Regions from separate parts of the Homo sapiens genome. Here region 1 is linked to region 2. The links come from fine-mapping of genetic effects on gene expression. Tissue or cell type: minor salivary gland. Region 2 holds a variant in brackets; the other region holds the start of a gene. All regions are shown on one strand. Distances are between the middles of the regions.

What was found. PIP is the estimated chance that this variant, and not a neighbour inherited with it, causes the effect.
Region 1: it holds the start of ZMYM4-AS1, and the variant in region 2 is fine-mapped to the expression of ZMYM4-AS1 in minor salivary gland (GTEx, PIP 0.95).

Annotation. Positions count from the first base shown.
Region 1 is chr1:35,363,448-35,368,596 of GRCh38, reverse strand. ZMYM4-AS1 (ZMYM4 antisense RNA 1) reads left to right here and starts at 2,520. Exons shown (of 2, transcript NR_046659.1): 1 at 2,520-2,631. The region is part of intron 5 of ZMYM4 (zinc finger MYM-type containing 4); the gene reads right to left.
Region 2 is chr1:35,137,817-35,142,965 of GRCh38, reverse strand. It overlaps LOC105378644 (a long non-coding RNA gene), which reads left to right. Exons shown (of 3, transcript XR_947180.3): 3 at 1-1,497. Among named protein-coding and RNA genes, the nearest start is that of SFPQ, 53 kb to the left of the region's middle. The variant A/G (reference allele first, on the strand shown) is at 2,504.

The DNA of each region.
Region 1 (5,149 bases), 230 kb before region 2:
AATTATATTTACTCCAGTAATTTATGAAAAAAACACCATTTAAAAGTATTTTCCCACTTTGTTTCAATTTGCAGCTATTTTTAATGTTCATTTACAAAAAGTACATTATAATGGAACACTATTAACTCTCAGTAGCATTTGTTATCAACATTTCCTCAATATGTACGTTAAGTTAAAATTTTATATATTTGTTTCCATTTTTGTGCCAAAAAAATCTGACAGTCTTTACCTTTGTGATTTCTTCTATCTCTTACAAAGTTTTATTTCCACATTAAAAGAATAAGAAAATAGTTTCATTTTTATAATAATACATTCATTTACTCCAGGGATCAGCAAACTTTATCTGTAAGGGACCAGATAGCAAATATTTTTGACTTTGCAGGCCATATGGTCTCTGTCCCAACTACTCAACTCTGCTCTGGTGGAGCAAAAGCACCCACATAATATGTAAATGAATGAATGTGGCAATGTTCAAATAAAACTTTATTTATGAAAGCAGTGGGTGGAAAAACAAAAAAAATGGGTGGGGGGGGGGCGCTGGATTTGGCCCACCACTGATAATTTGCCAACCCCTGCCTTAGTCCATTTGGAATTTACTCATTTTGATGTATAATGAACATTTTTCTTTTTTGAGACAGAGTTTCACTCTGTCACCCAGGCTAGCTCAACCTCGGCTCACTGCAACCTCTGCCTCCTGCGTTCAAGTGATTCTCCTGCCTCAGCCTCCCCAGTAGCTGAGATTACAGGTGCCTGCCACCACACCCGGCTAATTTTTGTATTTTTAGTAGAGATGGGGTTTCAACATGTTGGCCAGGCTGGTCTTGAACTCCTGACCTCAAGTATCTACCCGCCTCAACCTCCCAAAGTGCTGGGATTACAGGCATAAGCCACCATGCCCACCTCTTTATCTTTCTCTAAATAGTGAATTCCTTTCATTTGCCATTGATAAATATATCAAATTCTTAAAAAATAATGTCTGTTTTTGGGCTATCTCTTCTATATCATTTTCAGTCTGACTAATCTTATGATATCATGCTATCCTAACGAAACTAATTGTAGGATACTTATGGCCAGACGTGGTGGCTCACACCTGTAATCCAATCACCTTGGGAGGCCGAGGTGGGTGGATCACCTGAGGTTAGGAGTCTGAGACCAGCCTGGCCAACATGGTGAAACCCTGTCTCTACTAAAATTACAGAAATCAGCGGGGTGTGGTGGTGCACGCCTGTAATCCCAGCTACTCAGGAGGCTGAGGCAGGAGAATCGCTTGAACCCAGGGTGGTGGGAGGGCAGAGGTTGCAGCGAGCCAATATTGCACCATTGCACTCCAGCCTGAGCAACAAGAGTGAAACTCTGTCTTTTAAAAAAAAAAAAAATTAATTAATTGTATGATGTTCAACCATTTAACAGCATTTGCCACATTCAACCTCTCCATCCATTTTTTAGAATATATGTGTAATAAGTGTGTGTATGTGCATGCCTATTATTCTTCTACAAAACTTCATAACCTAACCATTGATATTTTCATCAGAATTGCATCAAATCTAAATCTCAATTTTTTTTTTTTTTTTTGAGATGGAGTTTCACTCTTATCCCACAAGCTGGGGCACGATGGTGCGATCTTGGCTCACTGCAACCTCCACCTCCCAGGCTCGAGTGATCCTCCTGTCTCAGTCTCCCGAGTAGCTGTGATTACAGGCATGCACCACCACGCCCGGCTAATTTCTGTAATTTTTGTATTTTTTAGTAGAGACAGGGTTTCACCATGTTGGCCAGGCTGGTCTTGAACTCCTGACCTCAAGTGATTCGCCCCCCGCTTGGCCTCCCAAAGTGTTAGGATTACAGGCGTGAGCCACCGCACCTGGCCTTAAATCTTAATTTAAAAATAACTGACATCTACATATTTCTTACATTTAAAAAGATGGTCTCTTCATTATTTCAAGTTGTATTTGATATAAGTACTTTTTAGTTGCTGCTGGGAATAGTGTATCTTTTTCATTATATCATCTAACTGGGAAGTTTATTTATAGAAGTATTGGTATAATTCAACTAGGTACTCCACTAAATTTTCATGAATTCTATTAATTCTTTCATAAATATTCTTAATAGCAAGTGATAATTTTATTTCCCTTTTTCCATTATTTTTTCTTCTAATTTCTTTAACATGGATTGAAGTAAAAATCCAACAAGAGTTAAATAATAACGATGACATCCGCAACTTGTATTCTTTTAGTAATATTAACAGAAGATTTCCATCATTTTACTTCAACTTCAATAACTGTTACTGATCTGAAGTAGTAGTTCCTTACTATGATCAAGAAAAAATCTATTCTAAGAAATGTCTGAATTACATGAGATGTCTTTTGGCATCTAATAAAGTGACTATTACAGATACCCTTATTTGACCTGCTGATGAAATATATGTATTAAAAGATTTTCTAACATCGACTAATCATGACATTCCTTCATTATATAGTGTATTAAAGAAAATTTCCTTAAATATTTTTATTTTAATCTCAGAAAACTCCAGAAACAACCAATACTCATTGGCATACATTAACGGTCTGCAGTCAGCTCTCTTAGTCTCTGTGATGGCTATTGCAAACTTCTGCTGGATTCCTTTAGCCTTGAGTACGTATTATTTATGTAATATAGTAAAATAGTATACATCTTAAGTACTGTTTGTATGGTCCACAATGCCTTCAAGGCACAATCATGTTTGGTTTATGTTTGGATCCTCCCATGATCACTAATTTTACAAGTATTTGATAAACAAATCAATGAGTAGCCAAATACTAATAAATATTTTCTGAGAAGTAAATATCTAATTGGTAACCCAAAAGCTTTCAGAAGCAGAAAAACACATGCCAAAACACAAAAAAATTCCTTTACCAATACCTTTACCTTCTTAGTTTACTACAAATGAAGATCAATATTAATATCCCATGAAAGTATTTTAGAAATGAATAACACAGTTTCTATTGCCAAATTAACTCAATATGGCTAAAAGAGCCCCAACATTTGAATTACTACATTTTCTTTCCAAAACTGTGTGAATGACTATTATGACAATTAGTTCATTTGCTTTCCCATTTTAATTGAGTTCTTTCAATGAGAGACTACACATTAGCTCGTCCTCTATTATTATGAACAAGAAGAAAAAGAAATCATGACTTTAATGTAGTATTTACTGAATGTACAGTTTTTAGACCCTATGGAAAAGGCAAAAGAGGAAAATGAGGTCTCTGGCTCTCTTTAAAGTATCTATTTTGAAACCTTCCCTTGGTATTTTTAAAATTAAACAACTTTTATTTACAGAAAGATTGGTAGACTAAAAAAAAAAAAAAAAAAAAAAAAGACTTTGATTATGACCCCAGATTGGCTCCTTCCTGGCCATGAGGGCTTGAGTAACTAAATCTCTATATCTCTCAGCTCTCTCACCTATAAATGTTAACATCCTCTACTCTGGCCATCTTATACAGGGTTGTTAGGCGAATTAAGCAACACAGTACGTGTAAAAGCATCTGTAACTGTAAAAATACTACAGAAAACATTATAGAAACATGCAATAGAATTAGAATGAAGAAATGAAACTGTGAGACCCAATGACATTATGCCAGTAATAGAGGCAGGAGGACGGACAATGACTGGCAAATCCAGAATATCATAACTGAAGAAATAACCAAGAGCAAATGGGTAGAGGAAGTTAAATACATACACACACATTTCAGCACCTTGTTTATATAGTAAAGTAAAGAAATTAGGACCAAAATGAATTGTGTAAAAAAGAGAATTAGGAAGTGAGCTAAAAGCAAAACTACCTAAATTAAGCACAAAGAAAAGCCAAAGGAAGTTTTGAAAAGGTGCCATAAACTAAAGCTATGATTTTATTGAACCATGAAAGAAGTTACTGGTAACTGATGGTCAAAAGTAAACACTGACCACAACTGTAAAATCTATCAGTATTTTATGAGAGGCTAATAGTACTTTTTTGAGACTAATAATATAATACACTAGAGTTCTCTTTTCCAGTCCATGGGAAATGAATAAAAGTAATAAATTATGCAATTTTGAAAGGCAATACTCTTCTAAAAGAAGGAGGGAAGGTGGAGACGGGTGTGGAAAAGACAAGAAAAAGAAAAGAAGGAAAGAATCACATATCTAGTTTATAACATGAGAGCTGCTCTGGGGGATTTCTAGAAGAATTATCAAAGGTCTGATCCTATAGGACTGGTATTGCTGACAACAAAAAGGACTCCTCAGGGAAAACCTAGCTCTATCCACTCACATACTACAAGTCCCTTATTGTGGGGTCAGGGTAAAGAATGCTTTTGGATCTTATGCCCAGGACCTACTCACATTACTGCTTAATTCTCAAGTCCAATCAATCAGGGAGTAAGCCTTTGGGGAAGTTCTTCCCATAATCATGATGAAACTTCATATTCATATTCAGTATTTGATAACACATTTTATAATTCTGAATAAGTATATAAAAATTTAAGTGTTTCTATCTGTTCCATCCTATTTATATTCTCCAGCCACTGGAACCTCTGATTGTTCTGAAAACAACAATACTAATAACCTTCTCAGTGTTCTCTACCCCTATTGTATTTGGTTTATGCTCTAAGTGCCTTTTTGTCCCAAGGAAGTGTCACATGGTTCAAGTACAAAAGAAAGAGATGATTTTGGTACCCTGCCAGCATGCCCACATTGGGGCAGGAGAAGAGATACAAGATCTGCCCTTCATATAGACATGGCTGTAGTCTTCTGAAGCATATACTGCCACATGAACTTTCCCCAGGTGTTGGGACATCTATTTATCCCTAATTCAGATATCTAAGATCTCCATTACCTGCTTCTATAAACATGCTTTTATTTACCTTCTATTTAAATAGAACAGAAAAATCTATTTATATTCCTTCTACTTTCTTCTTTGTAGCAAGTATACTCATATCCATCCAACTCCTATAGCTTTATCACTACCCTAACACATCCAACTTCCACTGAACGTCATGGAATTCATGCTAACTGAGCATCAATTTGACTCAGTGACTCACATGAATCACCAACCTCTGCAATCTCCTATTCTTCCATCTGCTTACTCTAATACAATGGTTCTCAATAGATCATTTTTTGTTAAAATTGGCAA
Region 2 (5,149 bases):
CAGCAGGATGCAGATCACCCAACCTGGCTGATCCTGAGACGAGACCAAGCTGCTGCTGAGGACGACAGCCCTGCTCTGGTCACTCCGGAGGCTGACCAGTCTACGCACGGCCGAAGCTTGAGGACTCATCGAGCAAGTAAATGTAGTTAAAAATCTTAAGACTAATAGTTTTCCTGTAATACTAACTGTTTTCCTATTGTTCGGTCGCTGTATTCAACCTTTTTCCCAGGTAAGGACCTCTTTTGTCCTTGCTGGATACGAATATGCTGTACATTGTTTTGTTGTTGTTAACCCCCATAACCATGTTAGAAGAAACACCTATATAAGGTGTCCCCACTGTACACATACTACTTAGGAAACCCAGACCTGTCCAGCCCAGTAACAATTCTGAGTCTTTCAGTCATTCTTTAAACATATAAACCAGAAGTTACCAGAACCTCCTCCTTTAGCAAAAACAGAAAAAACCTATTTGCTCAGCTGGCTGAAAACATTGCTAGCTGCCTAGATGTTTCTTCATGTTATGTTTATAAAAAGGCTAACATAAGAGACCAATGGCCTTGAGAAGCAAAAGAGTTAATGCCTCAAGATAACTTTAACTAGCTCTTTCCCCAAACAGATGCCACAAGTTCAAGCATCTGGCTCTTAAAACTTCTATTATTAAAAAATACCATGTTACTCACTAGGAAAAAGCTTTTAAGACACAGTAAAAAGAACTAACCTGCTTAAGGCATGACAAAGTTGGTACATGTGCATATACAGGTTTAACACAGGTCTGATCCTAGGTGTTCATTTAGAACATAGTTTCCAGCTGTAAGAAAATTTAAAACCCTCATTGTAAGTGTATTACTAGTAATAGGAACTTGCTTGCTGCTCCCCTGTATATTATATTTGCTCCTTCAAATGATAAAAGGTTTTGTAGCTACCATGGTTCAGCAGAAAACTTCAACACAAGTATATTACATAAAATACTATCACTCTGTCTCACAAAAAGACTCAAAAAGTAAAAATAAAAGAACTCCCACTGATTAGTGAAAATTCTCAAAGGGGGAGATAAGGAAGGAGACCACTACTACTCCTGCTGCCCTCCTCTCCCCACCTTGCCTAGTTCGCAAGACAGGAGGAGAGAAAAACAAAAAGTTGGAAAAAAAACAAAAGTAAGATAAACAGCCAGACAACCTTGGCACCACCACCCGGCCTTAGGAGTTAAAAAAAGTAATAATGATAACCTCAACCCCTGACCTAAACTACTTGTGTTGTCTGTAAATTTCAGACACTGTATGAAAAAAAGCATTGTAAAACTTTTTGTTCTGTTAGCTGATGCATATAGCCCCCAGTCATGTTTCCCATGCTTGCTTGATGTACCACGACCCTTACACGTGGACCCCTTAAAGTTGTAAACCTTTAAAAAGGCCAAGAATTTCTTTTTCGGGGAGCTCGGCTCTTAAGACACGAGTCTGACAATGCTCCTGGCCGAATAAAAACCTCTTCCTTCTTTAATTCAGTGTCTGAGGAGTTTTGTCTGTGGCTCGTCCTGCTACAATAAAAGGTTAAAAAGAGTCTATAAAATCTTACCTTATGGTCAAACATTAAAAATTAGATAAATATGTCTACAAGGTTTTATTAAAATTAAGTTTAACATTAATAACACACTAATATAAAAATAAAATTTAGCTTATCTGGTATAAAAATCACACGAGAAGCACTGTTAAGTGTAAAATGGTATTTGGCTTTCTTTGGTTTAAAAAGTAATAAACATTTTTCTCAGTAAAAAGGCACTAAGGAATATAAAGTCCACTGCCAAGGTCCCCACATTTAAAACAAAGGTCAATTTCTTTCTTTTTTTTTTTTTTTTTTTTGAGACAGAGTTTCACTCTTGTTGCCCAGGCTGGAGTGCAATGGCGCAATCTTGGCTTACGGCAACCTCCGCCTCCCGGGTTCAAGCAATTCTCCTGCCTCAGCCTCCTGAGTAGCTGAGATTACAGACATGCACCACTATGCCCAGCTAACTTTGTATGTTTAGTAGAGATGGGGTTTCTCCATGTTGGTCAGGCTGGTCTCGAACTCCTGACCTCAGGTGATCTGCCCACCTCAGCCTCCCAAAGTGCTGGGATTACAGGCGTGAGCCACTGCGCCCGGCCCCAAAAGGTCAATTTCTTAAAAATTATATACTTCATTTATCTTCCACTTTCCTTTCTCTCAAAAACTAAAAGTCTTTTAGCACATGTACCACTCCTAGAATTTCCGGTAAACCAGCACCAGCCTGAAGATCACATTCTCATCAAAGGGTGGAAAGAAGAAAAACTCGAGCCAGCCTGGGAAGGACCCTACCTTGTGCTGCTAGCCACTGAGACTGCTGTTTGTACAGCCAAAAAAAAAAAAAAAAAAAGAATGGACTCATCACACCCGAGTCAAGAAAACACCATCACTTCCAGAGTCGTGGGCCATAGTCCCAGGGGAAAACCCTACCAAACTAAAGCTAAGCAAAATTTAACTCTTTTCATCT[A/G]TTCTATTACTCTTTCTTCTTTCCTCATTCTATTGCTGACCATCTAGTTATTAACATAACCAAGTCAATTTCACCTCAAACTATTGCATTTAATGCTTGCCTTGTTATAACCTGTGAGGACTTGCCAAGTCAAAGACAGCTTTCTACTTCAGAAAGGTACTTCTGTCTCTCCTGCCTCTCCTCAGACTGGGCATTAGTAAACTAGGACCATTTAATCCGAGGAGATTTCGATAAAGACCCCAGTGCCAACCAGGAGTCTTGCCCCCCGATGTAGAGCTTTCATGCCATAGTTGGTCCAACATTCTGTGGACCACTAAAGGGCAAGGATGGACTGCCCCAACCGGTTTTTGTAATTTCCTAAAACCATACATTCATTTTACTAGAGGATCATAGAAGTTAAAGACTTAAACTTTAGCAATTAAGACAGGATACCAAGATGCAAATGCCTGGTTAAAATAGATCCAATATTCCATCTGCATGTTAAACAAAAACAATTGTTTTGCTTGTGCACATGGCAGGCCAGAGGCCCAGATTGTCCCCTTTCCACTAAGGTGGTCTTCCAGTTGACCAGGTGTGGGCTACATGGTAGCTCTTTCCAGGATTCTACAGCCTGGAGTAATAAGTCGTGCCAAGCTCTCTCTGCTATATACCAAAGTCCGGCACCCTGTGGGTCAGCCCCTGAGGGCCATCCAGCCTCCGTCTCCCAACACTAAGTTCACTTTGTGTCTCTCACGACAGGGAGGAAATTTAGCATTCCTTGGAGACCTGAAGGGATGCAGTGAGCTTAAGAATTTTCAAGAAATTATCAATCAGTCAGCCCTTGTTCATCCCCAAGCGGATGTGTGGTGGTATTGTGGTGGACCTTTACTGGGCACTCTGCCAAATAACTGGAGTGGCACTTGTACTTTAGTCCAATTGGCTATCCCTTTCACCCTGGCATTACATCAACCAGAAGGAAAAAAATAAAGCATCGTAAAGCGAGAGAAGCCCCTTATGGGTCTTTCGACTCTCACATCTATTTAGATGCAATTGGAGTCCCATGAGGAATACCAGATCAATTTAAAGCTTGAAATCAAATAGCTGCAAGATTTGAGTCAACATTTTGGTAGGTGACAGTCAATAAAAATGTAGATTAGATAAACTACATCTATTACAACCAACAGCAACGAGATTTTCATGAGTTAAAAAAAAAACTCACGTCGGCCCCAGCCCTGAGGCTACCTGACCTGACAAAACTCTTTACACTCTATATGTCAGAAAAAGAAAAAATGGCAGTTTTAACTCAGACTGTGGGGCACTGGCCAAGGCCAGTGGCCTATCTCTCAAAACAACCAGACAAGGTTTCCAAAGGCTGGCCCCCAGGTCTAAGGGCCCTAGCAGCAGTGACCCTGTTAGCACAAAGCACAAGAAGCAGATAAACTAACCATTAGGCAAAACCTGAATATAAATGTCCCCCATGCTGTGGTAACTTTAATGACTACCAAAGGACATCATTGGTTAACAAATGCTAGATTAACAAGTACCAAAGCTTGCTATGTGAAAATCCCCACATAACCATTGAAGTTTGCAACACCCTAAACCCCACCACCTTGCTCCCGGTATCAGAGAGCCCAGTTGAACATAACTGTGTAGAGGTGTTGGACTCAGTTTATTCTAGCAGGCCCAACCTCCGAGACCATCCTTAAACATCAGTAGACTGTGAGTGGTACATGGACAGGAGCAGCTTCGCCAACCCCTGCAAAGTGACTCTGAAGAAGACAACAAGCCCTGCTCCAGTCACACCCGGACGCACGACCGAAGCATGAGAAAACTCATCACGGGACTCATTTTCCTTAAAATTTGAACTTTTACAGTAAGGACTTCAACTGACCTTCCTCAGACTGAGGACTGTTCCCAGTGTATACATCAAGTCACTGAGGTAGGACAAAAGGTTGCTATGGTCCTATGATATTATGGTTATTATAAGTGTACTGGAACTCTGAAAAGAACTTGTTTGTATAATGTTATTCTATACAAGGCATGTAGCCCAGGAAATGACCAACCTGATGGATGTTATGACCCATCTGAGCCTCCCATGACCACAGTTTTAAAAATAAGATTAAAGACTGAGGACTGGTGGGGGCTCAAAAACGATATGAATAAAGTGTTAGGCAAAACAGAAGAAAAAGGGGTGCCCAAACAAATCACCTTAAAATTTGATGCCTGTGCTGTCATTAATAGTAATAAGTTAGGAATAAGTTGTGGTTCTCCTAATTAGAAAAGAGGCTATATGGCAGAAAATAAGTACATCTGTCATAAATTAGGACTGTGTGGAAATAAATGTAAATACTGGTTTTGTGTCATTTAGGCCACTTAGATTAAAAAAAAAAATGAAAAGGATCCAGTCCACCTTCAGAAAGGAAAAAAAGGCCCTTCCTGTACTAAGGAACAATGTAACTGTCAGGCCTCTGAGCCCAAGCTAAGCCATCATATCCCTTGTGACCTGCACATACACATCCAGATAGCCGGTTCCTGCCTTAAATGATGACATCCCACCACAAAAGAAATGAAAATAGCCTGTTCCTACCTTAACTGATGACATTATCTTGTGAAATTCCTTCTCCTGGCTCATCCTGGCTCAAAAGCTCCCCTACTGAGCACCTTGTG